2 separate regions of the Homo sapiens genome follow, and region 2 is linked to region 1. A link means that fine-mapping ties the variant in region 1 to the expression of a gene that starts in the linked region. Tissue or cell type: whole blood. Region 1 holds a variant in brackets; the other region holds the start of a gene. Each region is shown on its reference strand, or each on the opposite one. Region 1 holds the start of COPZ1 (coat protein complex I subunit zeta 1). Region 2 holds the start of P2RY12 (purinergic receptor P2Y12).

The links. PIP is the estimated chance that this variant, and not a neighbour inherited with it, causes the effect. A credible set is the group of variants that fine-mapping cannot tell apart.
Region 2: it holds the start of P2RY12, and the variant in region 1 is the best candidate, but not a certain one, in a credible set for the expression of P2RY12 in whole blood (TOPMed, PIP 0.54).

What each region holds. Positions count from the first base shown.
Region 1 is chr12:54,318,702-54,334,561 of GRCh38, forward strand. COPZ1 (coat protein complex I subunit zeta 1) reads left to right here and starts at 6,430. Exons shown (of 9, transcript NM_016057.3): 1 at 6,430-6,480. The coding sequence starts at 6,463. RefSeq lists enhancers at 10,490-11,180, 11,181-11,870. The variant A/G (reference allele first, on the strand shown) is at 7,204.
Region 2 is chr3:151,374,109-151,389,968 of GRCh38, forward strand. It overlaps P2RY12 (purinergic receptor P2Y12), which reads right to left and starts at 10,645. Exons shown (of 3, transcript NM_022788.5): 1 at 10,584-10,645. It overlaps MED12L (mediator complex subunit 12L), which reads left to right. Exons shown (of 45, transcript NM_001393769.1): 28 at 1,918-2,106; 29 at 2,692-2,766; 30 at 2,883-3,070; 31 at 3,904-4,065; 32 at 6,005-6,116; 33 at 8,548-8,637; 34 at 9,671-9,780; 35 at 9,975-10,110; 36 at 10,922-11,083; 37 at 13,702-14,064. RefSeq lists an enhancer at 3,960-4,029.

The sequences.
Region 1 (15,860 bases):
GCCCAGCTAATTTTTTATCTTTTTTAGAGATGAAGTCTTGCTATGTTGCCCAGGCTGGTCTCGAACTCCTGGCTTCAAGCAATCCTCCTGCGTCTGCTTTCCAAAATGTTGGGATTACTGGTGTAAGCCACCCCCCACTGGCCCTAGCTTACTTATTTTTTTGGTTTATTGTCTGCTCCTACACATTACCCCACCCCTCCAGCTAGAATGCAAGTTACATGAGGGTAAACATACTTGTCTGTTCTGTTCACTGCTTTATCCCCAGTGCCTGGCCCACAATTGACATTTAATAAATATTAATAGAATAGAATATAAACATTTACAAACATAGTTATTCATAATTATAGTCTTTTTTGTTTGTTTTTGAGACAGAGTTTTTGTTCTTGTCACCCAGGCTGGAGTGCAATGGCGCAATCTTGGCTCATTGCAACCTCCTTCTCCCAGGTTCAAGTGATTCTCCTGCCTCAGCCTCCTGAGTAGCTATGATTACAGGCGTGCACCACCACGCCTGGCTAATTTTTGTATTTTTAGTAAAGATGGGGTTTCACCATGTTGACCAGGCTGGTCTGGAACTCCTCACCTCAGGTGATCCACCTGCCTCAGCCTCCCAAAGTGCTGGAATTACAGGGGTGAGCCACCGCGCCTCATCTATAGTCTTATTTTTTTTAATAAAAAAATAAAATCATGACATATAAATTACTCTGCAACTTACTTTTATCATTTAACATGCCATTGTTATTTCTCCAGGTTAATGTATATAGATCTAACATTCCTTTTTTTTTGAGACGGAGTTTTGGTCTTGTCACCCAGGCTGGAGTACAATGGTGCGATCTTGGCTCATGGCAACCTCCTTCTCCCAGGTTCAAGTGATTGTCCTGCCTCTGCCTCCCAAGTAGCTGGGATTACAGGCGCTCACCACCATGCCCAGCTAATTTTTGTATTTTTAGTAGAGACGGCATTTCACCATGTTGGCCAGGCTGGTCTCGAACTCCTGACCTCAGGTGATCTGCCCACCTCGGCCTCCCAAAGTACTGGGATTACAAGTGTGAGCCACTGTGCCCGGCCTAGTTGCATATTATTCCACAGTCTAGATGTACGATAATTTATTAACTCATTCCCCTGTTGACAGATGTTATTTCTGGCCATTGTAAACAATTCTATAATAAGCATTCTTAAATATGTATCATTAGGTATTGGGCTGTGTTTTTATTTCTCTAGGAGAGGGTATATCCATGTTTAGTTTTACAGGATATTGCCAGAATACTTTCCAAAAGACTGTAACAATTCCAACTTCCACAACATCTGGTCCCTCTATGGCAGCTACCTAGGTTTGTTTTCAAGGTGTTTCACAACCTGGACACAAAGTACCTTTCCAGTTTTATCTCTGTTCTCTTTTCTTTCTTTGAATTCTGTTCCATGAAATCGATCCTTCAAAGATTTCTTATGCAACCTTTAAGACATTCTGCTAAGTGAAATAAGCTAGATGCAAATAGAAAAATATTGTATGATTCCATTTTATGAGGTACTAGAATAGTCAATTCATAGAGACAGAAAGTAGAGTAGTGGTTACCGGCTGCTGGGCAGAGGAAAGAATGAAGGTTACTGGTTTTTTAATTTATTTTAATTTAATTAATTAATTAATTAATTTTTGAGGCAGAGTCTCGCTCTGTCACCCAGGCTGGAGTGCAGTGGCGTGATCTCGGCTCACTGCAACCTCCGCCTCCTGGGATCAAGCAATTCTCTGCCTCAGCCTCCCATAGCTGGGATTACAGGCACCCGCCACAAAGCCCGGCTAATTTTTTGTATTTTTAGTAGAGACAGGGTTTCACCATCTTTGCCAAGCTGTTCTTGAACTCCTGACCTCGTGATCCACCCACCTCGGCCTCCCAAAGTGAGCCACCGTGCCTGGTCTATTTTTATTTTTTTGTAGAGATGGGGGTCTCACTATTTTGTCCAGGCTGGTCTCGAACTTCTGGCCTCAAGCCATCCACCGTCTTGGCCTCCCAAGTCCTGTGATTACAGTCATGAGCCATGGCGCCTGGCCAATCATAGAATTTTAAAGTTAGGGCCTGGCCGGGTGTGGTGGCTCACGCCTGTAATCCCAGCACTTTGGGAGGCCGAGGCAGCCAGATAACCTGAGGTTGGGAGTTCGAGACCAGCCTGACCAACATGGAGAAACCCCGTCTCTACTAAAAAAATACAAAATTAGCTGGGCCTGGTGGCACAAGCCTGTAATCCCAGCTACTCGGGAGGCTGAGGCAGGAGAATCACTTGAACCCTGGGAAGCAGAGGTTGCGGTGAGCCGACAGTGTGCCATTGCACTCCAGCCTGGGCAACAAGAGCGAGACTCCATCTCCAAAAAAAAAAAAGTTAGCTAGGGCCCTAGAAAGCTCTGGTCTGAACCTCTCCCCTTTCCAGAAGTGACAGCTATAGTCCATCCAGAGAGGGTACAGAGACTTGCAGAGTTCTCTCACTGATTAAAGCAAAGTCACAACAATAACTAATGTCTCTAATTCAGTCAATTGTCTTCCTCCCACAGCACAATTACCCCAACAGGCTGGAGAGCTAAGAATCAAGCGATCTTCTGCAACAATATCTGACTTAAAATTTGTCAGTTACTACACAGAAAAAGGAGCCAACCATCCCCATGAACCAACCATACCACACTTTTTCCTCCTTATGGTCCTTGTAGAATATCTGGCACTGAGGTAGAGTCCTTGAGGTAGGACTGGGATGCAAGAGAGGCAGTACAACAAACTAGAGGAGTGGACTGTGGGTAAGAACATGGTTTAGAGTCTCCTGTGCTCAAACGTATGGCTGCTAAAACAGTTCTGTAGCCTTAAGTAAATTATTTAACTGCTCTAAACTCCATGTTGCTCATCTGTAAAATGGGTTTAATAATCATCTACTTCGTAAGGATTTTTTATTTTATTTGTTTTTTTTGAGACGGAGTCTCACTCTGTCACCCAGGCTGGAGTGTAGCATGCAATGTCGGCTACTGCAACCTCTGCCCTCTGAGTTCAAGCGATTCTCCTGCCTCAGCCTACCAAGTAGCTGGGATTTCAGGTGCCTGCCACCGCGCCCGGCTAATTTTTTGTATTTTTAGTAGAGACGGGGTTTCACCATCTTGGCCAGGCTGGTCTTAAACTCCTGACCTCGTGATCCACCCGCCTCGGTCTCCCAAAGTGCTGAGATTGCAGGTGTGAGCCACCGCACCCGGCCAGGAATTTTTTTTTTTTTTTTTTTTGAGACAGAGTTTTGCTCTTGTTGCCCATGCTGGAGTGCAATGGCAGGATCTCGCTCATTGCAACCTCCACCTCCCGGGTTCAAGAGATTCTCCTGCCTTAGCCTCCGGAGTAGTTGGGATTACAGGCACCTGCCACCACACCTAGCTAATCTTTGTATTTTTAGTAGAGACGGGGTTTCACCATGTTGGCTAGTCTGGTCTCGAACTCCCGGCCTCAGGTGATCTGCCTGCCTCAGCCTCCCAAAGTTTTGGGATTACAGGCATGAGCCACCATGCCCAGCTACTTCATAAGGATTTTAAAAAATGTATTCAATAATGTATTTAAAGATTTAGCACCGTGCCTGGCACATAATAAGTGGGCAGTAAATGTTAGTATTACCTTTAAGCTGCAAAGCCAATGACAACCCACTGACTGTGATGCCAGGCACAGTAAATGTGTGAACAACTCTCCTTGAGGAATAAAAGGACAAGCCTTCACTTCTTCCAGATATAAGGCTTAACACCTGGTATTCCACCAGAAATTCACCTTCTGTCAGAGTACACTGTAGGTCTATAATTTGCATTGTATTGTTCAATTTTTTATTTTATCTTATTTTTATATACAGACTGGGTCTCCCTGTGTTGTCGAGGCTGGAATGCAGTGGCTATTCCCAGGCACAATCACTGCGCACTACGGCCTCGAACTCTTGGGCTCAAGCATCCTCCTGCCTCAGCCCCTGGGGTAATTGGTACTACAGGCACATGCCACAGCGCCCTTGTATTGTATTGTTTTATGTTTCCTTGATTCTACTCCGACTATTAGAAAAATTCCTGGGTGGCTGGGCCCGGTGGCTCACGCCTGTAATCCCAGCACTTTGGGAGGCCAAGGCGGGTGGATCATCTGAGGTCCGGAGTTCGAGACCAGCCTGGCCAGTATGGCGAAACCCCGTCTCTACTAAAAGTACAAAAATTAGCCAGGGGTGGCAGGCGCCTGTAATCCCAGCTACAAGGGAGGCTGAGGTGGCAGGGAGAATCGCTTGCAACCGGGAGGCGGAGGTTACAGTGAGCCAAAATCACACCACTGCACTCCAGCCTGGCGACAGAGAGAGACTCCGTCTTAAAAAAAAAAAAAAAAAAAAAAAGGCCGGGTGCAGCAGTGGCTCACGCCTGTAATCCCAGCACTCTGGGAGGCCGAGGCGGGCGGATCACGAGGTCAGGAGATGGAGACCATCCTGGCTAACACGGTGAAACCCCGTCTCTACTAAAAATACAAAAAATCAGCCAGGCGTGGTGGTGGGCGCCTGTGGTCCCAGCTACTCTGGAGGCTGAGGCAGGAGAATGGCGTGAACCCGGGAGGCGGAGCTTGCAGTGAGCCGAGATTGAGCCACTGCACTCCAGCCTGGGGGACAGAGCGAGACTCCGTCTCAAAAAAGAAAAATTCCTGGGTAAGTTTGGAATCTCTTCTTGGAGGGCTCCTAAGGATATAATTTTCAGAGATGAGGGAAAAAATCCCTTTAGGATAATTAAGGTAATAGGTGTCCCTGCCCTAAGAGGAGTCAGGGATCAGGAAACCAAGGGATAGGGGAAAGCCAAGCTTCATCAAAATCATTCCCTATTGTGAAATTCTTGCATTCAGTAAACTTCTCTTTTCTCATTTTGCAACGCCTCATTTCTTTCCTCTCCTTTCTTTCCTTCTCTTTCTTTCTTTCTTTCTTTCTTTCTTTCTTTCTTTCTTTCTTTCCTTCCTTCCTTCCTTCCTTCCTTTCTTTCTTTCTTTTCTTTCTTTCTCCTTTTCTTTTCTCTTCTCTTCTCCTTTTCTTTTCTTTTCTTTTTTTTTTGAGATGGAATTTCGCTCTTGTTGCCCAGGCTGGAGTGCAATGACGAGATCTCGCCTCACCTCAACCTCCGCCTCCCAGGTTCAAGTGAGTCTCCTGGTTCAGCCTCCCGAGTAGCTGGGATTACAGGCATGTTCCACCACGCCCGGCTAATTTTGTATATATGTATATTTTTTGAGACGGAGTCTCGCTCTGTCACCCAGGTTGGAGTGCAGTGGCGCGATCTCAGCTCACTGCAAACTCCGCCTCCTGGGTTCACGCCATTGTCCTGCCTCAGCCTCCAGAGTAGCAGGGACTACAGGCGCCCGCCACCCACGCCCGGCTAATTTTTTGTATTTTTAGTAGAGACGGGGTTTCACTATGTTAGTCAGGATGGTCTTGATCTCCTGATCTCGTGATCCGCCCGCCTCGGCCTCCCAAAGTACTGGGATTACAGGTGTGAGCCATCACGCTCGGCCTGTATTTTTTTTTTTTAGTAGAGACGGGGTTTCTCCATGTTGGTCAGGTTGGTTTCAAACTCCCGACCTCAGATGATCCGCTCGCCTCGGCCTCCCAAAGTGCTGGGATTACAGGCTTGAGCCACCGCGCCCAGGCACAACGGCTTGTTTCTATTGGAAAACCCCAGAATTTACTCCCTATAACCCCTCTCTTATTCTAATCCCATCCCTTTCCCCGTTTGTCCCGCAAACCCCATCTCCAAAGCCGATTTCACGTTGAGCTCAAGTTGGCCTTTACAAACTGACTTCTCATGTTCCTCAGGCCCAGCAAAGCCTGGAACTCCACCTTAGGGAGATTGTTATTGCGACTATCAACTCCTGGCAGCCTTGGTTTATGTAGTTAACATGTTGGGCCTTTCTTGGCTCTACTCTATGGTTGTGCAGACTTTCTGTGAGGATGCTGAAGTGACCTGAGCGAGCATGAGGGAAGGGCTAGCCACAGAGATCATGGACCTAATGCGGGCGCTGAAAATAGGGATTAGGGCAGGATTCCGGTTAGAAAGCGCCAGTGTTAAAGGCTAAGGAGACACAGCGCCCCCTAAAGAGGGTGCGGTTTAAAAATCGCTAAATCAGTCCGACAATATCACGTGTCCTCGGCCCTACCAATTGAAAATTAACAATCGCTTCTTCTGTTCCCCATGGAAACAACCCCGCCCCACTAACCCTCCCGCCCCAATGAGTCGTGAGGTTTTGGCGTTTTATTGAGTATTCAAGCTGACAATCAAACACCTGAGCCTTCTGGTTGGACACTTTGCTTCCGGTAAGCAAGCTAGTACAATAATTGGCCAATAAAGCAAGCCTTACCCAATGATCCTTATCCTAGGCGGGGCCTAATGGGAACGTATGGCCAATCAGCGGCGGCGTTTCTTTTGCGGCTCCACGTCGGCACCAGCTGCGGGGCAAGATGGAGGCGCTGATTTTGGTAGGAGCTGGAGGGGCAGCAGAGATGCTGTGGTGTCCACAGGGGCCGGGAGTCAGGGTTCAGCCCGAGTGGGAGACGGGGAAAGAGAGTTCCGGGTAATTCTTGGGGACTGAGCGTTCTGCTGACCTTTGGAATAAGTGTGTGGCCTAGTGTAGGAGCTAAAGCCTTGGTTTAGAGTAGGAAGCCCTGCCGGGGAGAGGGCATAGAGTCGGTGGAAAGTTGAAGGCAGCACATGGACTCCTTAGGATACACAGACCTGTAGGCGTACTGGATTAGGACCCTTCAGGTTGCCCCTTATTTTTAGCATTGTGGATGATACCCTGATTTTAATTTACCAAACCACCAAACTCGCCCCATATTGTAAGAAAAGAATACAGATGTTTTGTCGTTACAGACTCCTCCTGATGGTTTCCCAAGTTTGACTCTCCATTGCCGATTCCCTGCCACATTCCTTCAGGAAACTGTTTTGTCTTCGGTTTCCTGTTAATCCCTATTATATAGGTTTGTCAAATAATCAGTATTCCATCAAAGTTCTGGGATACCTGATAAAGTTAGCATGGATTGTGGAATATTTTTTCTAGACTCCTTATTCTGTTCTCCTTTTCTCTACCCATTTAGACCTTAGGAATTCTTTTTTTTTTTTTTTTTTTTTGAGACCGAGCCTTGCTCTGTCACCCAGGCTGGAGTGCGCACGTGGCGCGATCTTGGCTCACTGCAATCTCC[A/G]CCTCCCGGGTTCAAGCTATTCTCTTGCCTCAGCCTCCCGCGTAGTTGGGACTATAGGCGCGTGCCACCACGCCCGGCTATTTTTTTTGTATTTTTAGTAGAGACGTGGTTTCACCATGTTGGCCAGGCTGGTTTCGAACTCCTGACCTCAAGTGATCCGCCCGCCTCGGCCTCCCAAAGTGCTAGGATTACAGGCTTGAACCACCGCGCCTGGCCAGGAATTATTATTATTATTATTATTATTATTATTTTTGAGACGGAGTCTCACTCTGTCGCCCAGGCTGGAGTGCAGTGGTACGATCTCGGCTCACTGCAAGCTCCGCCTCCCGGGTTCACGCCATTCTTCTGCCTCAGCCTCCGGAGTGGCTGGGACTACAGGCGCTCGCCACCACTCCCGGCTAATTTTTTGTATTTTTTAGTAGAGACGGAGTTTCACCGTGTTAGCCAGGATGGTCTCGATCTCCTGACCTCGTAATCCACCCGCCTCGGCCTCCCAAAGTGCTGGGATTACAGGCGTGAGCCACTGCGCCGGGCCAGGAATTCTTATTGTATGATCTAGGATGCTAATTTCTCCCTCTCTGGTTACATGAGAATTGTGGTCGCTAAAGGGCTGTATTAGCCCTCTTGTCCATATGATGCTTTATGCTTGTTCTAACAAATAAAATACCTGTTACCCCTTTTTAGAACTGGACCAGAGAATTTCTCTCAAAAGTGCCCTATTTTGCGATTTGGAGGGGTGTGTGTGTGTGTGTGTGTGTGTGTGTGTGTGTGTGTGTAGGTAGGTAGGTAGTATAGTGTAGGAATTTAACTCCCAGCCTTCTTCCTTAATTGGCTTGAACTCTAGGCCTCTTTCCAAAGAAGCTTGTCTTTTATTTTCCTTCAGATCTCCTAAGCATACACATTCAGATCCTCATCAGATAAAAGAATAACAGGTTTTAATTCCTCTCTTTCAGTTAAAGACAGTTAATTCCTTATGTCGGTTGGTCAAATATAGGTAAAAAGCTTAAAATCTGAGTAGTTTTAAATATTTTCTGTACCAAGCAGTTAACAAGTATTCTTTTTTTTTTTTTTTTTTTTTTTTTTTTTTTTTTTTTGAGATAGAGTCTGGCTGTGTTGCCCAGGCTGGGGTGCAGTGGTGCAATCTTGGCTCACTGCAACCTCCGCCTCCCAGAATCAAGCAATTCTCATGCCTCAGCTTCCTGAGTAGCTGGGGTTACAGGCACGCGCCACCATGCCCAGCTAATTTTTGTATTTTTAGTAGAAACAGGGTTTCTCCATGTTTGCCAGGCTGGTCTAGTCTTGAACTCCTGACCTCAAGTGATCTGCCTGCCTTGGCCTCCCAAAGTGCTGGGATTACAGGTGTGAGTCACTGCACCCCGGCCAGTTAGCAAGTTTTTTTTTTTTTTTTTGGAAACAGAGTCTCGCTGTGTCACCCAGGCTGGAGTGCAGTGGTGTGATCTCACCTCACTGCAACCTCTGCCTCCTGGGTTGAAGCAATTTCTCCTGCCTCAGCCTCACGAGTAGCTGGGACTACAGGCACGTGCTGCCACACCTGGCTAACTTTTTTGTATTTTAGTAGAGACGGTTTCACTGTGTTGCCCAGGCTGGTCTTGAACTCTTGAGCTCAGGCAATCCACCTGCCTCAGCCTCCCAAAGTGCTAGGATTATAGGAGTGAGCCACCGTGCCCGGCAGCAAGTATTCTTAATCAAGAGGTTGAGTGCAGTGGCTCATGCCTGTAATCCCAGCACTGTAAGAGGCTGAGGCAGGAGGATCGCTTGAGCCTGGGAGTTTGAGGCTGCAGTGAGCTATGATTGTGCCACTGCACTCCAGCATGGGTGACAAAGCCAGACCCTGTCTCTAAAAAAATAAGAATAAAAAACCTCCCCCTAAACCCAATTAGCAGACTAGGATAGATTCTAGGGAATTGGTTTTTTTGGAAGTTTTTAGACTTACCTATATATGTTTAGAAGGGAGCCTGCTTAAAGGTAAAGGAATGAGGAAGATAATAATTGGGGAGCCCTTTTAACAATGGGCCTGTGTGTAGTGGGTAAGCTGGGGGAGTTATATGTGAAAGTATCTCTGTCGGGCGCAGTGCAGTGGCTCATGCCTGTAATCCTAGCACTTTGGGAGGCTGAGGTGGGCGGATCACTTGAGGTCAGGAGTTCGAAACCAGCCTGGCCAACATGGTGAAACCATGTCTCTACTAAAAATACAAAAAAAAATAGCTGGGCGTGGTGGCACGAGCCTATAGTCCCAACTACTCAGGAGGCTGAGGCAGGAGAATCACTTGAGCCAGGGAGGCAGAGGTTGCAGTGAGCCGAGATCGCGCCACTGCACTCCAGCCCAGGCGACAGTGTTAGACTCCATCTCAAAAAAAAAAAAAAGGCCGGGCACGGTGGCTCACGCCTGTAAATCCAGCACTTTGGGAGGCCGAGGTGGGCGGATCACGAGGTCAGGAGTTGGAGACCAGCCTGACCAACATGGTGAAACCCGGTCTCTGCTAAAAATACAAAACTTAGCTGGGCGTGGCCACGCCTGTAATCCCAGCTACTCAGGAAGCTGAGGCAAGAGAATCACTTGAACCTGGGAGGCAGAGGTCGCGGTGAGCCGAGATGCGCCACTGCACTCCAGCCTGGGTGACAGAGCAAGGCTCTGTCTCAGAAAAGTTAAAGAAAAAGAAAGTCTCTCTGTCACATTTCTCTTCCCTTAGTTCTCTGTCTCTGCTTCTTCAGTGAAGTCTGTTTCAGCCTGCTTCTTCCTTATTCTTTTGCTTTAATCTATGCCTAATAGGCTGCATTCACAGATCCCTGCTAACTTGATCAGGTAACCCTGGACTTTGCTTTTAAAACCACACTGGTTCTTTGTTATGGGAAACCTATGTAATGCGGTTAGGGACAATCTGATCAAAGCATATTCTTCTGTCCTTAACTCTACAAGGTACATACATAGCTGCAGGATGTCGAGAAAAAGGGACAGGTAAGCTACAGGGGGTCAAGAAGAACTGTTGATCAAAGTTTGCATTGATTGTGGAATTTCTAAATAACAGTAAGTTCCCTTCTTTTAGGTACTTTACAGTGGGTCACATGGTCACATTTCTTTCTTGAATTAAGTAATCCAGCTCTAGCTTTCAAGCAGATTTGTCTAATCTCTCTCAGGTCTCCTTAGGCTCTAAGGAAAGAGACCCTTTCATCTCTTTTAGTTCCCAATGCTTAATAATAGTGATCTCAGCCTGCATCTTTGGACTTGGCTTCTTCTCTCTTGCTGTATCTGCTGGTTCTCGCTTTTTGAGTTGTGAATGAAGAGGATCTCTGCAGATCACCATTCTCCATTAATAACCTGTGGAATCTTAAAGATAAGGATTTCCCCTTCCTCCTTCCTGCTTTACTTTTTTTCTTTAAAGCTGAATTACTCGGGCCGGGCTCGGTGGCTCACACCTGTAATCCTGAGGTGAGTGGATCACCTGAGGTCAGGAGTTCAAGACCAGCCTGACCAACATGGTGAAACCCGTCTCTGCTAAAAATACAAAAATTAGCTGGGCGTGGTGGCATGCGCTTGTAATCCCCAGCTACACGGGAGACTGAGGCAGGAGAATCGCTTGAACCTGGGAGGCGGAGGTTGCAGTGAGCCGAGGGCCATTGCACTCCAGCCTGGGCAAAAAGTGAAACTCTGTCTTAAAAAACAAACAAAACTGAATTCTGTATCGGTTTAGATCTTTAAATCTTTGTTCATAGGTTTTATTTTTCCTAATCCTCTCTGGATTCACTTTCAGAGTGCTTCTCCAGTGCTTTACAGACTAGACTTCTAATTCTGTACTTTGTCTTACCTTAATATTTTAAAACCATAACCAAATCCTAAATTCTAAGCCTCATTAAAAAATCAGGCCATCCAAAGTGCACAAGGATATGAGTATGTATGGAGGAGGAAACTATGCAGAATATGTCAATGACTTTAAAGGTTGATGTTGCTCCTTGGCCTTTGCTTCCTGAATCATCTTAATGGGGCTTTTGTTAAATTCCTTTGGCCCTAACAGTAGAGGTACTTGGCCTAAATGCCCCCCTCCCCCTGCTCTGGGCAAAGGTATCAATTACATTAAGCCCCTAAAGCACTCCCATCTCGTTCCTGGCAGTCCCCTGTGCCCCTCTCCCAGCTGCGTCCTTGCTGGTGCCTGGCCCCCTCCATTTTGTTAGGAGAAGCAATCTCCTCATTCCTGCGCTGTGGAGATATATTTCTCAGCTAGGGCGCGAGCAGTGCCAGCACTGCCCCCGGTGAGGTCCCTGGCAGCAATAAAAATTTTTATTGTGATTATGTTGGTGTCGGGGTGTCCATCTGGGTTATTGCACACCTAGTTTAATTGATTGAAGTTTAATTTATTGACACTTCAAATTAAATGATCAGAATAAACTGTGCTGTTACTCTGGCCAGCTTGTTTTAATGGTTGATTGCTGGAAGCAGACCTCGGCTTGAACTAAAACCCCCAAAGAGCAATTGACGCTGCTTCTAACTCTCCCCATGTCTTGCCCTCCAAGAAGACCTTGTTATAGATTTCCGACGTATTTATATATATTTTTTCCCTCTTCTTCACAGTGGTGGGAAAGAGTTGGTCCCTGGCAAGGTATAAATTATATCAAAGATCTAGGGGAGCTGTCACATGGTCAGAAGAGGAGGAGGGGGCCTCCATGTGAGGAAAACCAGACCCTTGAGAAGCCAGGTCTGCCTTGGGAGGCAGAGGATGAGTGCAATTATCCAGGTATTTGACGGAGCCTAGTGGCAGGTTTAGGGTCTTTTTTATCTAGATACTTGCTGCTGTTTCTTACTTTACTCCATTGACATGGCTTGATTAGAGTCTGGATGTTGACAAGAAAACAGGTTGTGGAAAGGGAAACTAGAGGAGCAAATCAGATGGAGCAGGGATAAAGAATCAGTACCTATGTACCCACTTGTGCTGGAGTAATTAGGAAGAGGAAAGGCAGAGTGCCCAGGGGACAGCTGATGAAGATGGATTCAGAGAATGAGTCCATGCACTTGTAAGATGCTTGTGCTGGCAAGGGCCCTCTCACATTCTGTCCCTCCTGTTTTTGGGCAGAATAGGTTTCCTTACATCAGATTATTAGGGGGATCTCTCCTGGCCTTACATTCCCTAGCCTGTGTCACCTCTTCTGGTGTTTGACCACACCCATCTCTTCAGGAAGTCCTTCCTGTTGTGTAATCTAAGTTATATATGCTGCAGATGAAGCCTGCTTTTTTATTTGGCTTTTTATTTTCACACTCTTTTTTTTTTTTTTTTTTTTTTTTGAGACAGAGTCTTGCTCTTGTTGCCCAGGCTAGAGTGCAATGGCATGATCTTGGCTCACCGCAACCTTTGCCTTCCAGGTTCAAGCGATTCTCCTTCCTCCGCCTCCCGAGTAGTTGGGATTACAGGCCCCCACCACCATGCCTGGCTAATTTTTGTATTTTTAGTAGAGACGGGGTTTCGCCATGTTGGCCAAGCTGGCCTCGAACTCCTGACCTTGTGATCCACATGCCTTGGCCTCCCAAAGTGCTGGGATTACAGGTGTGAGCCACTGCGCCCGGCCTATTTTCTCACTCTCAATGCAGATATCCCATCCATAGCCAATTGCCCTGGATAGCTCGGTCAACTAATTTTCTGCAACTCCTTTTCTGTTGTGTGGTTTTAGAGGGAGACTAAAACCAGAGGAGAATAGAGCAATTCTGCCTCGGGGTTGATTTGGGGGCATAAATAGACTGAAAGATAACACAGAGTCTGTCAATTCAGTCTCTCAGAGACTAGCTTTTTGTTTTCAGGAGCAAAAGCAGGGAGATGTGGGGGGGAGTAAAGGGATAAATCATGATACAAATCGTGACCCAGGACTCATCAGGAATGGATCTAGCCCCTTTTGATTTTTTTCCTTTGCTGAGTGTTATTTAAGTGAGGGCTCCTGGATTACCAAACTGAGAAGGCAGAATGTTCTAATGGTGCTCTCAGGCCTCAGGTCTGGAGTATAGTCTGATTTCTCCTTATTCAGTTCATCTCTCTTCCCAGCAGTACTGCTTTGTCCCTCATTTCTGTGATTCTTTCACTTCCATGATAGTTGAAGAATTAGGGACTATGTGACCCCTGGGTAAAAAATCCTCCAGCAAGGCCGGGCGCGGTGGCTCACGCCTGTAATCCAGCACTTTGGGAGGCCGAGGCGGGCGGATCACGAGGTCAGGAGTTTGAGACCAGCCTGACCAACATGGTGAAACCCGTCTCTACCAAAAATACAAAAATTAGCCGGTCATGGTGTCACGCGCCTGTAATCCCAGCTACTCAGGAGGCTGAGGCAGGAGAATGGCGTGAACCCGGGAGGCGGAGGTTGCAGTGAGCCACTGCACTCCAGCTTGGGCGACAGAGTGAGACTCCGTCTCAAAAAAAAAAAATTTTCCAACAGACAGGCTTTCTGAGTTTTGAGAAAGGTCCTGAGACTTTGCATTCCTAAAAAGCTTAGGGTTTGGTTGTCTTTGTCCTGCCCATTTCACAGTCATCAAATTCAGCCATTGAAAGCTGGAGGTGGCTGGGCATGGTAGCTCACGCGTGTAATCCCAGCACTTTGGGAGGCTGAGGCAGGCGGATCACCTGAGGTCAGGAGTTCGAGACCAGCCTTACCAACATGGCAAAGCCCTGTCTACTAAAAACACAAAATTAGCCAGGTGTGGTGGTGGGTGCCTGTAATGCCAGCTATTTGAGAGGCTGAGGCAGGAGAATCGCTTGAACCTGGGAGGTGGAGGTTGCAGTGAGCTGAGATTGCACCATTGCACTCCAGCCTGGGCAACAAGAATGAAACTCAGTCTTAAAAAAAAAAAGGGAAAAAAAAAAAGAAAGCTGGAGGGAGCGTGGTTGCTGACCTTTATTCCCCCTGCTGGCTGTTAGTTTTCTCAATCATATTTATTAATTTATGAAGGCCACACACACATTTATTGAATTTATCCAGCATTACTGGATGCCAGGTAGAGTAGAGGGGGTGGTTTACAAAAGTATCACTCATTTCCCCTCTTTTTCCTGCCCCCTCCACACCATCTTATTATCTCCAGAGAGAATCTCATTTAATTCTAAACTCGGCTCTGTGAACTCTTTGAAATCATAAAAAAATTATTTTTATTTATATATATATTTTTTGAGACAGAGTCTTGCTCTGTCATCCAGGCTGGAGTGCAGTGGTGCGATGATCTTGGCTCACTGCAATCTCCATCTCCGGGGTTTAAGCAATTCTCATGCCTCAGCCTCCTGAATAGCTGGGATTACAGGCATGCACCACCATGCCCAGCTAATTTTTTTGTATTTTTAGTAGAGACAGGGTTTCGCCATGTTGCCCAGGCTGGCCTCAAACTCCTGAGCTCAAGCTATTTGTCCCCACATTGGCCTCCCAAAGTGCTGGTATTACAGGTAGGAACCAGCATGCCTAGCCATGAAATCATAAAAAAATTTGTGAATGTATTTTGCTGGGAATAAGGTCCATAGATGTAATTGGTTTATCAAAGGGGTCTGCTGTAACTCAAAAAAGGCATTAACCTTAACTGATCTAGGTCAAGCCTCTCATTTCTCTGATGAAGAAGCTGAATCTCAGAGAAAGGGAAAATTTGAGTTAATGGCTGATCCCCATTATAGTACAAGTATTGTAGCCAGGCATGGTGGTGCATGCCTGTAGTCCTAGCTATTTGGAAGGCTGAGGCAGGACTCCTTGAGCCCAGGAGTTCAGGTCCAGCCTGGGCAACATAGCAAGACCCTGTCTCTATTTAAGAGATGGATTGTAGGAGTTTAGAGACATTTTCTCCTGTAATATCAAAACTCTTGTTGACTGTGCTTTACATGTTTTGGGTCTGTGTCAGATAGGAAGATTGTAGGTGTCTCTTCCTGCCGTCAGTTCTTCCCGAGTCATGTGTTGAGTTTTTTCTTTATAACCAATATTTGGTCTCATGTCAGCTGGGTAGTGTTCTGTGGTACCAGTGGCTCCCACTCTTTCCTGAGCTGTGCTTTTTGAATCTAATCTTGTGTGTATACAGAAATAATTAGCAGGGTGTGGTGGCATGTACCTGTAGTCAGCTACTTGGGAGGCTGAACGGGGAGGATCGCTTGAGCCTGGGAGGTTGAGGCTGCAGTGAGCTGTGATGGCACCACTGCACTCCAGCCTGGGTGACAAGAAATAATAATAATATTAATAAATCTGATATAGGCTGGGCGTGGTGGCTCATGCCTGTAATCCTAGCACTTTGGGAGGTCAAGGTGGGCAGATCACCTGAGGTCAGGAGTTCGAGACCAGCTTGGCCAACATGGCGAAACCCCGTCTCTACAAAAAACACAAAAATAAGCCAGGCTACAAAAAACACAAAAATAAGCCGGGCGTGGTGGGAAGCGCCTGTAATCCCAGCTGCCTGAGAGGCTGAGGCAGGAGAATTGCTGGAACCCGAGAGGCAGAGGCTGCAGTGAGCCAAGATCACGCCACTGCACTTCAGCCTGGGCAACAGAGCAACACTGTCTCAAAAAAAAAAATCTGATATGTAAAAACTGCTCTTCCCTGTCAAAGACTTTAGCTAATTCTTCTTTTCTTTTCATCTGAAGTCTATCGGATTGTGGCTGGCAAATTGGAGCCCTTAACCCCAGAGGAGCTTTTAATTTTAAAAA
Region 2 (15,860 bases), not on the chromosome of region 1:
CTGATTCCCAAAAACGTCAATTTACTTGTTTGTTTAATTCTATGATACATCTGAAATAGTTTTAAAATGTTACACATGGCCGGGCATGTTAAATGTGCTATCCAGCGCTTTGTCAAAAAATGATTAATTAAAATACAGTATCAAAAATGTACACTAGGCTAGGGCGCAGCGGCTCAAGCCTGTAATCCCAGCACTTTGGGAGGCTGAGGCAGGTGGATCACTTGAGGCCAGGAGTTTGAGACCAGCCTGGCCAACATGGTGAAACCCCATCTCTACTAAAAATACAAAAATTAGCCAGGTGTGGTGGCACATGCCTGTCATCCCAGCTACTTGGGAGGCTGAGGCATGAGAATCGCTTGAAACTGGGAGGCGGAGGTTGCAGTGAGCCGAGATTGCGCCACTGCACTCCAGCCCTGGTAAGAGAGCAAGACTCTGTCTCAAAGAAAGAAAGAAAGAAAGAAAGAAATGTTACACACATACCACTAGGAAGAACAAACCTACCTAAAAGGCTTTGAAGATTTGTTTGCAATTCCATTTTCTCTAAGGGTTTAAAATACTGTGTTCAAAAATTATTTGAACTTTTCCCATCCCTATGAGTGTATTCTTTATGTGAAATAGAACTAGGTTCATTTGGTTTTGCATTATTTAAATTCCTTTCTTGTCCCCAGCTCTGGCTATAGAATAGCTTACTTTCAAAAGTGAAACTATACAAAAAAGTATACTCAGAGATGTGTCTCCCTCCCATATCCCTCTTACCAGATGATCCAGTTTTATTATTTTTTGGTTTATTCTCCCTCCCATATATTTGTTTTAAAAGTTCTCTTATAAAAAAAAAGTGACATACCTTATATATTATTTTGTACTTTGCTATAGGTGTCATACCGACTGGGTCATGTTTTTGTATTTTTACAGGCATGTTATAACTATGGTAAAAGATAGCTACATAGTCATATAAGTATTGAGAGGCAATTGTGTGTTGGTTCCCAACTGTGAGTGCATATTGGAATCAGCTGGGGCATTTAAAACAATTTGGATGCCTAAAAAATTACTGATATTTGGGTGCCACCACCTGAGTTTGACTTAATTAGTCTGATGTGGGCCCTGGGCATGGAATTTTATAAAGATCCCAGGTAATTTTAGTGGGCAACCAGCATTGAGCCACTGGTATGGTGGTTAAAAAACAGACTTCACCCGAAATAGATCTGGGTTCAAATTGGGCTCTGTTACTGTTGATGATTTCTTACTTTATTTAGTATAATAATTTGCCTTTGAAAAAAATGGTAAAGAAAAGGCAATAGGAGTTTAAATTGGTAGAAACTCTTCAGAGGGTCATTAACCCCATGCATCTATAGCCCCCCACTCACACTGGACCCAGCAATTGCACTTCTATGAAATTACCCTAAGAAAATTATTGTATAAAAAAGAGATGTGCACTACTACTCATTTATAATGATAACATTATTCATAATAGTATCAAAAAGGAAGATCGTTTTCTAAATATTTGTTATACTATGTTGTATCTAGTCAGTGAGATAGTACAATGTATTCCATAAAAATTATGAAGAACGTATATCTGATAGAATCATTATATAGCAAGTTAGAAAAAACTGACACAAAATAGTGCCTAGAGCAAGACCTTACTTTCCAGTTAAAAACATACTAATATTCTCTTTATTGTCTTTTCTTTTTTCCCATTAAAAAATGTTTTTAAGCAAGTTCTACTTTGTATTTTTTAGAAGCCAAAATGCTAAAAATTTTGTTTTTTAAAATTTTTCTACCTACTTTTTAATGTAATTTTTTAAATTGGAAAATTCCTATCAGTTTTCTATTCAATTATGCACTGTGGATTTAGTACATATTGCATATATATATACCGAAAGCCAGTGCCTGTCAATCTAATTGCCATATTATTTTTAGGAATGGGTAGGAGAGCATTGCTTAAAAGAACCTGAAAGATTATGTACAGACAAAGAACTTATATTGGACCCTGTGCTTTCAAATATGCAAGCACAGAAATTACTGCAGCTTATCTGTTATCCTCATGGCATTAAAGAATGTACCGAGGGGGACAATCTGCAAAGACAGCACATTAAGCGTATTCTTCAGGTCAGTCGTATACAGATTGTGTTTCTGTCATTTGATAAATTCTTCGTAATAATAAAAAGAGTTACTTCCTCTCTTTTTTTGTCCTTGCTAATTTGTGATTTCAATTCTGATTTTTATTCCCACACATTTTCTGTGGAATTGACATACTTTATTTTTGGGTGGATGTACATGCTGCAAATTGTATATGATCATCAAACAAATATTGATATTTTAAATCAGTATTGTATTTACATGAGAAATATGCTTCAGAGAGGGGCTATGTTAAATATATTATTAAAGAAATATTGAAATCATTTTGGATTGGGATTGGTTAAATAGATTTTGAAAGGAGAAATGCTTATTTAGTTTCAGTGCATAGCTGAGTCAGGCACAGTATTAACTAATTAATAATTAATGTTTCTGTTTATTGGTTTGTATCGCTACTGAATATATATGCAGCAAGATTGGGAACCTTTTGACTCATATAAATTATTTCATTGTGTATGATTATTCTGCTCTTTCTTGAGAGAAGGAGTACTGTAAGAAATTACTGTATTTTAACACATTTGATACCCATAATGTTTTAATTCTTTCCATTTTTCCCAGAATCTTGAGCAGTGGACACTGAGGCAATCCTGGTTAGAACTCCAGCTAATGATCAAACAGTGCTTGAAGGACCCTGTGAGTTTATATTGAAAGCTTATCTCTGTATGAAATTTTATAAAAAGCAAAAACACGTTGATGTTTGAGGATAAAGGAATACACATATGTGCCAGTATTCTTATATCTAACTCTAGGGCTCTGGTTCTGTGGCCGAAATGAACAACTTACTGGACAATATTGCAAAGGCAACAATAGAGGTATTCCAGCAGTCTGCAGACCTAAATAATTCTTCTAATTCTGGCATGAGCCTCTTCAACCCAAACAGTATTGGAAGTGCTGATACAAGTAGCACGAGACAGAATGGAATAAAGACATTCCTAAGGTATTTTTGTCTGTTGTTTTATTGAACTGTCATGAATTTTTCACAAGTAACGGTAAATTTTGTGTAGCACAGTGATTTTTCTTTAAGTCATAGGAATGTGAAGAACATAGTTACTTGTAAGCAGGGATTATTATTAATAAGTTAATGAGTAAAGCTGGGGTGAATGATAGCTTCGGAATATTTGATTGAGTAGGCTTAAACACCTTGAAACTGCAGGTGAACTCAGGTTTGGTTCATGCTTTCAGTGTCCCTTAGTCTACTGTGTTACGTAGTATTCATTATATGGGAAACGCTTTTTCCACCATTTTTATTAATTAATTATTTTGCACAAATATATCCTGGTAATTTTTGTGCAGAATTAGAACCAGTAGGCATATAAAGTCTTAAAGTAATTATTTAATCATGAAAGGCTGATTTGTATTTCATCATTTTGGTATAAAGTATAACTAGCGAATTTTAAACCTTAAAAATTAGCTATTAGTATGCTTACATATAATATTTCATATTGTAACTGTGACAGAAAAGTATATTGTTTGTTGGACAAAGTGATTGTTTTTAATTAGAGAGAGGGGGTCATCGGAAAACATTAAAGTCAGTTTAGTTACAATATCCTTCCAGAACTGCATGTTTTATTGCTTTCTGTAGGCTTAGGTGGAAAGCTCATGCAAATGTCTAGTGTTCGGAAAAAGGAAAGATAATACAGAAATAAAAGGGAAATTTTAGAACAGTCTGTGTGTCTCATACATCAAAGTTTCGCTTTGGAGTTTCTGTTATAACTGTGAGAGCAGGGGAAAGGATGCTTTCTCCGGTGTAACACCTGTTTCTGATTTTAGTTCCTCCGAACGCAGGGGTGTATGGTTGGTGGCCCCCCTCATCGCCAGGTTGCCAACTTCTGTGCAAGGAAGAGTGCTGAAAGCCGCTGGGGAAGAGCTGGAGAAGGGACAGCACTTGGGTTCTTCTTCCAAAAAGGAAAGGGACAGACAGAAACAGAAAAGGTGTGGCTGGAAGATGGGCGTCTGTGTGAGAGTTTAAAGAATAATTGAGAAAGTCTCACTTCCTGTAAACCTGTGTGGTCACTGTACCCACAGTCCACTGAAATTTAGTTTTTAAATGGAACTGGGAATATTCTATTAGGCAAGGCTGTCTTATTCCTAAAAAATTTCAGGTTATAATCCTTAATACATTAGTTCTCAATTCTGCCTTTATATCCAAATCACTGCTGAACTGTTAAAAACAGTGATTTCCGAGACCCGCTTTAGACCAACTGAATCAGATCTGGATAGCTACCTGATCCCTGTATTTTATTTTTAATTATTTCTATTTTTTTATTATTTAGATATTTATGTTTAAAATAAATATAATGTATAATTCTGGCATGTTGGTGTCTGAACTAGTTGCTCATATTTTTAACATTTAGGGCTCCTGTTCTAGACTAGACATTAAGACTCCTCGGCCACCACAACTAATGTTTTCTTAATTTATTTTATGCCCAAGAAAAGGTTTCAAGTAATTATATTTGAAAACCGTGTTACTGAGAAAGAAAGAAACCTCACCCTAATGTGAAAATGCCAAGAAACCTAGGAGTAAAGGAAAAAAATTGATAATTTCTTCCATTAAAAAAATATTTTAAGCACATAGATTTCTTGTCCACTAATGAATAATACTATAGTAGCCACCATTTATTGACTGCTTACAGAATGGCAACTCCTCTCTAAAACTCATTATGTACATGAGCTTTTAAAATTCTTATAGCAATCATGTGGTAGGTACTCTCATTATCTTCTTTATATCATGTTGAAACAGACACTTAAAGGTTACATGAGTTGCTCCAGGACACACAGTGAAGGACATAAAGCCTGGGTTTAAATCCAGGAGGTCTGGCTTCTGAGCTTGTGCTCTTAACTACAGTACATTTTGGTAGAGACCCAGCATTGTATGTACTGTATTTGTTTTACATCTGGTTGTTTTACCATGTTGGCCAGGATTAATTAACCAACAAGGAAGCATAATTCTAATTTTCAAATCATATTTGCTGATAGGTGAGTGTATGTGCATTGCCTAACTTCCCATAGGCAGGACAGATGGTATTGAAGAGACTTGAAAGATCGCTCTTCCCACATCAGGGGCTCTTTATTCTGCCCATGGAGAATAATGCTGATTGAAATATTTTGGCCTAGGTCTCATTTTAAGAAATTTGTCTTTCCAACATGGCGCTTTGTTTGTCAATATGATTTGTTGATTATTCTCTAATTGAAGACATTTTGTTAAAATGCCAATTTAAAACAGAATTTTTAACCAAATGCCTTGACACCTCTTTACCAGTGGATGCTGCGGGCTATGTTGGAGCCTGTGGGCTGTGTTGGAGCTGCACACTAGGGGTCGCCAGCAAGTACACTGTTTTTGGAGTCCTCAGCCCTGGCTGATGAATTAGCTCTACTAACACCCTGCTTTTTGGTCTTGGGAAATGTGCTGAAAAACAAAATCAAACCCCAAAACAAGCTCAACAGACATATATATAGGCCTGTTTTCCCAGACTCTAAAACAAGAGTTTTATATGAGAACTTTAAAAATTTTTAATTTTATCCTGTGTATAAATTGATATTCTTTCTGATGTACATTTTTAAATTCTGCATATTGATGTAGAAGATGAATTCACTGTCTTCTACCCTCACTGCCCGGCATGCTCACATGCAGTATGGTTTGATGCTAGTTTGAGAATGGCTTCGAGGGCAATTAGAGCATACGAAGTGATTTAGAAGCATTACAGTGGCTTTTAATTTTATAAGTAGAGGTATGATTTAAATTTTCAAGCAGTCTTTGGCTATTTACCACCTCTCTTATTTATCTAATAGTGAGGCAAAGAAATGAATGTTGCCAGAGGAAGTAATGCATTATTTCTAACTAGATCTGTTGTTATTATTACTTCCTTTGTAGTATGTCTCTTTTGAGTCAACAACCCTTCCTCTCACTGGTACTTACCTGCCTTAAGGGACAAGATGAACAAAGGGAAGGCCTCCTAACATCTCTCCAGAATCAAGTTAACCAGGTAAAGTATAGTATAATATTAAGACAGGCAAATATCTTTCTAACGGCATTCATTTATTTGCCTTTCAAATACTGAGATTAAATTAATAAGGGCCAGGTGTGGTGGCTCATGCCTGTAATCCCAGCACTTTGGGAGGCGGAGGCTGGTGGATCACCTGAGGCCAGGAGTTCGAGACCAGCCTGGCCAACATGGTGAAACCCCGTCTGTACTAAAAATACAAAAATTAGCCGGGCATGATGGTGTGCGCCTATGATCCCAGCTACTCGGGAGGCCAAGGCAGGAGAATTGCTTGAACCTGGGAGGCAGAGGCTGCAGTGAGCTGAGATCGCGCCATTGCACACCAGCCTGGGAAACAATAGTGAAACTCTGTCTCAAAAAAAAAAAAAAAAAACAACTAGTAAGGTTACAAAATGTTTTGAGTAGACGCTGAGAAACAATCCATGCCTTATTCTTCTACCTGGCATTGTAGACACCACAAGATTAACAACTTTATATTAATGAGATATATACAATAAATGTGTACTGCCTATAAAAGTAAAATTTTATATATTGCATATAACTTTGAACTATCTGCCCGTCTCCTAACTCTGCCTCATAGGAGAGGACCTGGAGCAATCTATGCTGCAGTAGGCATGGCAGTGAGTCCAGCTCCTCAAGCTTGGATGCCACATTATCAGGCACGCTTTCAGCTTGAAATCTGTAGGTTCAGAAACTCAGTTGTATTGATGCCAACCAAGTACACAAGAAATAAATCAGAAGGCATGTTGGTTTATTTAGAAATAATTTGGACATTGCCTTTTCACCAAACACAGTTCTCCTGGTCACTGTTTGAGGCTCTTGCATCTATGTACTATAAGGAAACTGAGCATTCACAACAGAAATTGGAGAGCATGGAATTAAGCAAAGTGGATAGATTGGTCTTATGAGGTGTTTTATCCTGATACACAGCCTAATTGACCCCTTCTTGTGGCACTGTGTTTCTATGACACCATGTCTTTCCCTCGAATGGTACTAGATGGACATGGACAAGGACACTTAATCTTATTTGATCCTCTTGTCATTTCTCACCTTTTGGGTAGGAGAGATCTAGATATAGCAATCATAGTGAACCTTTTTAAATGGAAGTCACATATTACCTCAGTATACCTAGTATAAAAAATTCGGGCTGATAAGGCCAGACATGATTTGACACTGGCTCTCTCTCCTACCTTGTCTCCTACCAGTCATGGCCCTCTTTCCTCCATGGTTGTTGCACTGGCCATGTTACTGTTCTTGAACTTGCTGAGCAAATTCTCATTTCAGTGCCTGTGCATCTTTTCTTCCCTTTAGGTGGAAAGATTCCCTTCCAGAGATTAGCATGGCCTGCTCCCTTCATTCAGTTCTCTGTTAAGATGTTACCTCCTTCGGGAGGCCTTTGATCACCTCTAAAAATAGGACCACAGCCATTCTGTATGCCATTGCCATGCCTCAAACCACTTGTTACACTTAGTTTTATTTGTCCCACTACTATTATTTGAGCTCCATGAGAGCTTGTTGTTTAGTTAACTACCTTGCCCCCTTAAGCCAGCCTTAGGGAGGGGTTCATTTCTTCTGATGAGATTTGGGAAGTGCTTTCCTCTCACCTTGCAGGGTACTTACAGGTCATCTGTTGGGATGGAGTACTTCTGCATGTGACTCATTTGAACTCTTTTAAGATGACTCTCATTAATGACCATATTTCAGAGCATGATAGGGTTTTTGTTAGTGGTTTTTTGTTTTTGTTTTGAATTGCACTTTTTTTTTGCTCATCTCATCTGATTTTAGGGTGTTGCCCACTTGTGGCTCCCTTTCCTAAGCAAATTTTTCCTTTTCCAGCATTAGTGTGAGTCAGTGAGGAAGTGAAGAAGCAGCCCACTTTATAAACTGATAAAGCCACTTGGCTGATGTCTGCAATGCCATATTTTTCAAAGTACCGTGCGTTCTCTTTATCAAGGAAGACACATACATAAGATAGCAGACCTTCTCTTCTATAAAACATCAAAATAATACATTTGCTAGGGTTCAGCAAGTCCCTAGAAATATAACAGGACTGAGGCAAAATGTAATTCTCTCTCTCCAGTGTTTTTCTTCGTAAGATCAATGAGGTAATGTATTTTAAAAGTTTTTATTAATGCTTAATTTGATGGCCCTCTCAAGCATTTTCCCAGACTTAATCATAGGCTAGCTATATAATTATATAAGATTTTCTTCCTCCACCTAGAACGGCAAATGCACAAATAAATAGCCAGATTTCTTTCTGCATGGAGGAAGAAGAAAGCTAAAATTTTATTTAGCTTTGTTTGTTAATTTGTTAAAGATAAGAAGTGGTTTTTTGCTATCAGTATAAAGCTCAATTTATCTTTAAATGAGAGAAAAATTAAACTTTAATGGGGAGTTTTTTTCCGGATCTTAGATTTTAAGTAACTGGAGAGAAGAACGATACCAAGATGACATAAAAGCGCGGCAGATGATGCACGAAGCATTGCAACTCCGCCTAAATTTGGTAAGTGACATTTCTAGTATTTTCCCTCCATTAAACATATTTACATGTGAAAATACCTCCAGCTTTCCACTTCTCCTAAGTGCAAAGTCTGCATTACAAGGTGAGGCCTTCCACTCTTTGCTCTCTGTAATTACTTCCCTGTTTCTAAAGCCTTCTGTTTCCCTTGCTGCTTTCCTTCCTGTCTGGTCAGACATCTAGACAGTGCTAGGTATTTTAAGCATAGATTTGCCTTCTCTACCTCTACCCCAGTGAATCTCTCCTTCTCTTCAGTTTGTGCTAAGAATAAATCTGAGAAGACTGTTATAAGTGTTAGCTTCTACTATACTTACTTAAAACCATTTAAAAAGTCTTTTAACTCAAAGTTTTGTCCAACTTTCCATCAAATTGATTATAAAGACAAATCCCACAGAGAAGTTTTATAGAAATTTAAAATGTCTCACATATTGTGCATTCCTTGAGTTTTCTTTTCCCATCAGGCAGGCCCAAGTGCAGGCCCCTCTGGAGGATGGCCTGCCTGATACTTTTGCAGTTGTTTCTAACCTTGTCCCAACACGTGAACTGGTAGGTGTGCGGGCCAAGCCTCCTGCCCACCACTGCTGTGATAGTGGATGTTTCCATATGGTATTATGATAGCAGGCTTAGATTCAATAGTAATTGTACAGCAAACACAAAGATGCAGATAATTGGATTACATGACTTTGACATTATTCAGGTTTAATTCAACTATAATTGCATCATAAAACTGGACATCATAAAAGATTTGGAACAAAAGAAAGCTAAGTTTATTGGTGCCCACATTCAGATACTCACGTCCCTTCTTCATTTTAGTTAATGTTTGAATGACTGAACTGTGCTGAAAGAACTAAAAATAGTGATAAACATGTAGGTAAAAGAGAAAAGATAAGGTAATCTATAAACTAGAGCATCCCTTGTTTTTTTAAATAAAAAACAATCAAAATTTGATAACATAAAGCAATGGGGTGTTCTTTCTGTTTTACAGAATGCAAATATCTTACTGTATTTTGTCTGCTAGGTAGGAGGAATGTTTGACACGGTGCAGAGGAGCACCCAGTGGACTACAGACTGGGCCCTGCTACTCCTTCAGATCATTACTTCAGGAACTGTTGACATGCACACTAACAAGTATGTTTTTATCACTTCACATTGATTTTGCTACATGTATGCATGGTATAAGCTTTGATATACTGATGGCGATTTCTGCCACATCTTATTTACTTGGATGCTATTAAAAATTCTGTGCCTTGAATAAAAATACTCAGTTAAATAAGTGTATTTCAGTTTCACTTTAAGATGAAAATAATTATTTTCTTTCTTAGTGAATTATTCACAACAGTTCTTGACATGCTGGGTGTTTTAATCAATGGAACGTTAGCCTCTGACCTATCAAATGCATCCCCTGGGGGATCTGAAGAGAACAAGCGTGCATACATGAATTTAGTAAAGAAACTGAAAGTAAGTTTGAGATCAGCCTGTATTATGAGCTCAAGTTGTTTATGGATTTATTATCTAGTGCATTTTAATTTATTACTCATTAAATGTTATTAATTGTATTCAACTTAATTTAATGTGATTATTTGCTATTTGTTTCACCTAACCTTATTAGTACCCAGAAGTTACATGCACATAACCTTGATTATTTTTTATTGAAAACAATTACATTATAAAACATGTTTAATTTTTTAAAGAACTTTAGAAATCCACTGTTAAATATATAACCAGAATACTAACATTAGATAGATTTAGGATAACTCTATGCTTGGACTGGCACGTGTAATTGAAAAAATAGCCATCTGCATTGAAATTTATAAATCGATTCATTTGACCGACCACTAACAGACTCCTTTAAAAAAAAATTGTAAGAAAACAGTGCAAAAAAGAAACCAAATAAATCTGATGCATTACCAATCAAATAAATCAATGGTTACCTTGTAATCTGACCCTGGACATGAGAAAGTGTTCTGTTCTGCAGCTCCTGTCTTCTGATTGTGATCACTACCCTGGATTTTTGTCATTTCAGCACTATGATGTTTGTTGTGTAACAACAGTGCCTTTGTATGTGTTCTATTTTCTACTTAAATAGAAGAAATGAAACACTCATTGCTCTATTTGGAACTGCCTTGTAGAACATGTTCAGGGTTAAAGAACATGCGCTAAGCTATAAAAAGGGAAATGTTTCATAGGGGAACTTCCTTCTGGTTAACTTTTGCCTTCATTGTAATTTCTGTCCCACTTCTCACTCTCTCTCTCTCTCTTTTTTCTTTAGAAAGAGCTAGGAGACAAGCGATCAGAAAGTATTGACAAAGTTCGACAGTTACTACCTTTGCCGAAACAGACATGTGATGTCATCACTTGTGAACCTATGGGTTCCTTGATTGACACAAAAGGAAACAAAATTGCTGGATTTGACTCTATAGATAAAAAACAGGCAAGAGTGAATGTTTTTTCTTATATATAAATTTATTTACAAAAGATGAAATACTTTTTTTTGTCTTACCATAGGATATATAAAATATATTAATTTTGCTGTTGATGTTTTTAAGGCATATGCTTGTCTTCTAAGTGTACTTAGTCATTGGCATTATCATATAAAGAGGTCATATCTTTGAAGATCTACGTTTTATATGTTTAAAGGACTTAAAATGTTTCCCTGAATTTAAGTAAATTTTTGGAAACCTACCAAGAGAAAACTAAGTAAAAGCTTAGTGTAAAAAAAAAATTGCATAAATAAGTTCTGATTATACTTCAGATTTAGAAGCAGAATATATTTATCAATGAAAAATTTCTTGTAAGCTGAGCATGGTGGCACATGTCTTTAGTTCCAGCTACTTGGGAGGCTGAGGCAGGAGGATTGCTTGAAGCCAGGAGTTTAAGGCTGCAATGTGCTAGGCTCATGCCTGTGAATAGCCACTACACCCTAGCCTGGGCAACAAAGTGAGACCCTGTCTCTGGGGGGGGAAAAAAAAAAAAAAACCTTCCTGTAGTAAGCTATTTCAAATAAAAATTATTTTAATTGTTAGGATATTCTCTATTCCTATCAAGCAGTATTTAATGGACATTTGTTTTATATAAGATATTAAAGATGGTTCTCTAAAATATGAGAAAATTGGTCAGTTACTCTTTTAATGAACAGTAAGCAACCACCGACATTCCACAATCACCAAGATGAAAGACAGAGTTCCTACCCTCAAGGGGGAAGTAGACAGACAATTACAGTGTAATGAGATTTGTGTGACATGGTACAGAGAGAGTATTAGGGGATAGAATAGAGGGTCCCCAGGAAAATTGACACGAGTCATTTTGAAGGATTAAGAGTTAGCTGGGAGGTAGGGAAAATTGTGGTACAAATAAAGGGAGAGTTTATATGAAGACATGAAAGAATCAGATTTACCAGGGAATTTAGAGTAGCCTGAGAATCTAATACCAGTTTGTGTAAAGAAAAAAAGCTAAAGTCATGGTCAAGTTTGAGTTTGCAGTGTCAGCGGACTTCCTGGTAGTAAGACATCTGGAATCCATTTGGATGTGTGGTTTTTACACCAAGGAAAAAGTTCTCATCTCAAGACAAATATTAGGAAACAGTCAATTTACAGGTGGCAATTGAACCTTGGTTTTATTTTGTTTTACTTTGTTTATTTATATTTTTTGAGATGGAATCTCGCTCTGTCGCCCAGGCTGGAGTGCAGTAGTGCGATCTTTGCTCACTGCAACCTCTGTCTCTCGGGTTCAAACGATTCTCCTGTCTCAGCCTCCTGAGTACCTGGGATTACAGACATGCACCACCAGGCCCAGCTAATTTTTTTTTGTTTTTGTCTTTGTTTTTTTTTTTTTTTCAAGACAGAGTCTTGCTCTGTCACCCAGGCTGGAGTGCAGTGGCGTGATCTCGGCTCACTGCAACCTCCACCTCCCGGGTTCAAGCAATTCTCTGCCTCAGCCTCCTGAGTAGCTGAGATTACAGGTGCCTGCCATCATGCCTGGCTAATTTTTGTATTTTTAGTGGAGACGGAGTTTCACCATCTTGGCCAGGCTGGTCTTGAACTCCTGACCTCGTGATCCACCTGCCTCAGCCTCCCAAATTGCTGAGATTACAGGTGTGAGCCACCACACCTAGCCTTTTTTTGTATTCTTAGTAGAGACGGGGTTTCACCATGTTGGCCAGGCTGGTCTCAAAGTCCTTACCTCAGGTGATCCCACCCGCCTCAGCCTCACCAAGTGTTGGGATTACAGACACGAGCCACTGTGCCTGGCCTGAACCTTAGTTTTAGATGAAGCTACTCATAAAAGAATGCATATAGATAACAACAGTAACACTTACATCTTAGGGAATGACTGAGTAGTTATTTGGGGGCCATTTAAGGAAAAATATTTTTAAATTGACATTTTAAGGCAAGTGCCAAGAGATGTCACCAATTAATGTTAAGAATAAAAAGAGGGTAACCGTTTTTTTTTTTCTAGAGTCAGTAAATATAAGCTTGAGTTGAAAGACTTTACTTATTCCTGCTGCTACAATTTAATTCTCTAATAATAATATTATATTCAGAGTATGGCTTATTAAGTACAGGGCCCACATATTGAACCAAGTTCATGCAGATTTGGATTGAAGTTAATACTAACCCAATTACAGGTTGACTATAACTTGACTCTTAAATTTGATATTATCTTCAAAATTATAAATAGATTACAGAGATTTAGAACTGGTTATAATTTAGTAAGATTAACTTTGCAGTGTTAGAATTTTTAGCAACAAATTTTTAGAATTTTTTTAGCAAAAAGAGGAAATACACATTAACAATAAAATATGCTAGACTGCCTCTGTTGCCTAAACAGAGCATCATGTGGTTAAAGAACTGTAGAACCGGGCTTACAAAGGTCTGAATTCTAGCCACTGCTCTCCGGTGATGTAGCTGTGTAACCCTCTCTGCTGTATTCTCGGGTTCTCTAGGGCTCATGCCAGCCAAAGTGTTCTCTGACTCCATGTCCCATACAAGCCTGGCCTATGAATAAGGAAAAGATCTGAGTGTGCTATCTTAGAGCGCTATTTTCCCACAGGGTCTCCAGGTCTCTACGAAGCAGAAGGTGTCCCCGTGGGACTTGTTTGAGGGTCAGAAGAACCCAGCTCCTTTGTCCTGGGCCTGGTTTGGGACAGTCCGAGTGGACCGAAGAGTGATCAAGTACGAGGAGCAGCATCACCTCCTGCTGTATCACACACACCCCATGCCCAAGCCCCGCAGTTACTACCTCCAGCCACTGCCCCTGCCTCCTGAGGAGGAAGAGGAAGAGCCCACATCTCCAGTTTCTCAGGAACCAGAAAGGAAGTCCGCTGAGCTGTCAGATCAGGGAAAAACCACAACAGATGAAGAAAAGAAAACAAAAGGAAGGAAGCGCAAGACGAAATCTAGCTCAAGAGTTGATGTAAGTGGGGAAAGGAAGGAGAACCTTGGCTCATTAGCATTTAGTATGAGATTTACTCGTGCCCAAATCATATCCCTCGAAACATTACCAAGAGCAGGATAAGTTTTGTTATGACAGTTCTCCTAACAGGTTTCTGCATTAACTGAATGGCACACAATGACTTGTCACAGACAAAAGATTAAAGCTTTTGATTTTCCGTCCTCCACTTTTAATAATTTTATTTTAATTGTAGGCTTCCATTGTAATATTTAATTAATATTTCAGTGCCTCCTAATTTCCTCGGGTTTGAAACTTGAAATTTTTAGAACTATACAATCCCATTCTCTCACATATTTTTAATATGTCTAAAATATTTATTGTATTTTAAGTGGTTGATATCTTCAGTAAATTAACATAAAAAGCTCTATTTGGTTTTTCTTTGATAAAACTTGGAGTTAGCATAGCCAATAGGATGTTCCTGAGATTTTATGTTTTACTATTCCATCTTACCCTCATATATTTTCCTTCTTTACCATGTTTTCAGACTTTATAAAAGATGAAAATAAGCCTAATTTAAAATAGTTTTACTTCTTGTTTCTCTATTAGTGTTCCCCACGTATAATAATCTTTTCATTACAACAGAAATCTATTTGATGGTGATTTAGAAATAATTTTATAAACCTTGAGAAGTAATGCATAAAATGTTTTTCTATTTAAATTAAATTAAAACCTGGAAAATATTTGATAGAGGATTTGAGACATTTTTAATGAAATTCCACAGCATTCTTGCTGCACAGTGGAAGAAATATTCACCATTTCATTCAGATATTCATGATTGGTTATTGTTTACCTATGTGAGAACTAAAATACATCTTTTCCTAGCTGATAGCTTGGTGATTAATACTATTTTAGAAATGACCACCACCACTTTAGGATGCCACTTGAGCATCAGTGCCCCCTTCTCATTCAGTCTTCCTACCAGTATTCCTTTGTCTTGAAGGGAAGTTTAAAATGGTCCAGACTGACACTCCCTCAAATTTGGGGTTTCCAGCCTGTCAGTCCACGTGGATGGGCTTTTGTTCTTTTCTGATGAAAAAGCCCTGAAACCAATCCTGCTCCCCAGGTCAGTCTGGTCATGTCCCCTCTTCCTCTATTCTTCCTGAAGCTCCCTCTTTTCAATGAGATATGCTCTTCAGTAAAATTGCAGGGAAATGAGATTTTGTTTCTCTTCCATCCTCTAGGGCTAGACTAGATGAGGGAAGGTAGGGAAATTGAGACCTTCAGGTGTGATCCTTACAGGCTTTGCAGCTACTATAAGGAAGAGGAAGCATGGGGGATGAGGGGAGTGTCTACTTCTTTAGAACGATGTCTGGAAAATTGCAAGTGAAATACCATCTTGGCCAAAGAGTGGTTCTGAAGCACTGTAGGGCTCTCTGGCGTAATTCTCCAGACCCAAGATATTGGAAAGGCCTTCTAAGATGAAATGATCATGAGTCTTAGCAACTGAAGGTGCTTTTTCAGTGATGAGTGTCGTTCAGTATTGGTATTCCTGACACACTTGTAGTCTTTTGAAATAGAATTCAGAAGAGATCCTTTTCCATCTCTGCCCACTGCAAGCCAAGCACTGTTTAAGTCAAGGAAAAGTTTACCTCAAATGAATATTTCCAGGGGATTTATTAGCACTCTTCCTTCCATCTTCTCCTTTATAAAAAACAGCTTTGTACATTGGGATAGGAGGTACCTCAGATAGCTTACTGAAGTTATTTGCATTAATTAGCTGTGTGATATGTGGAGTTACGTAACTTTTTAAAAAACTT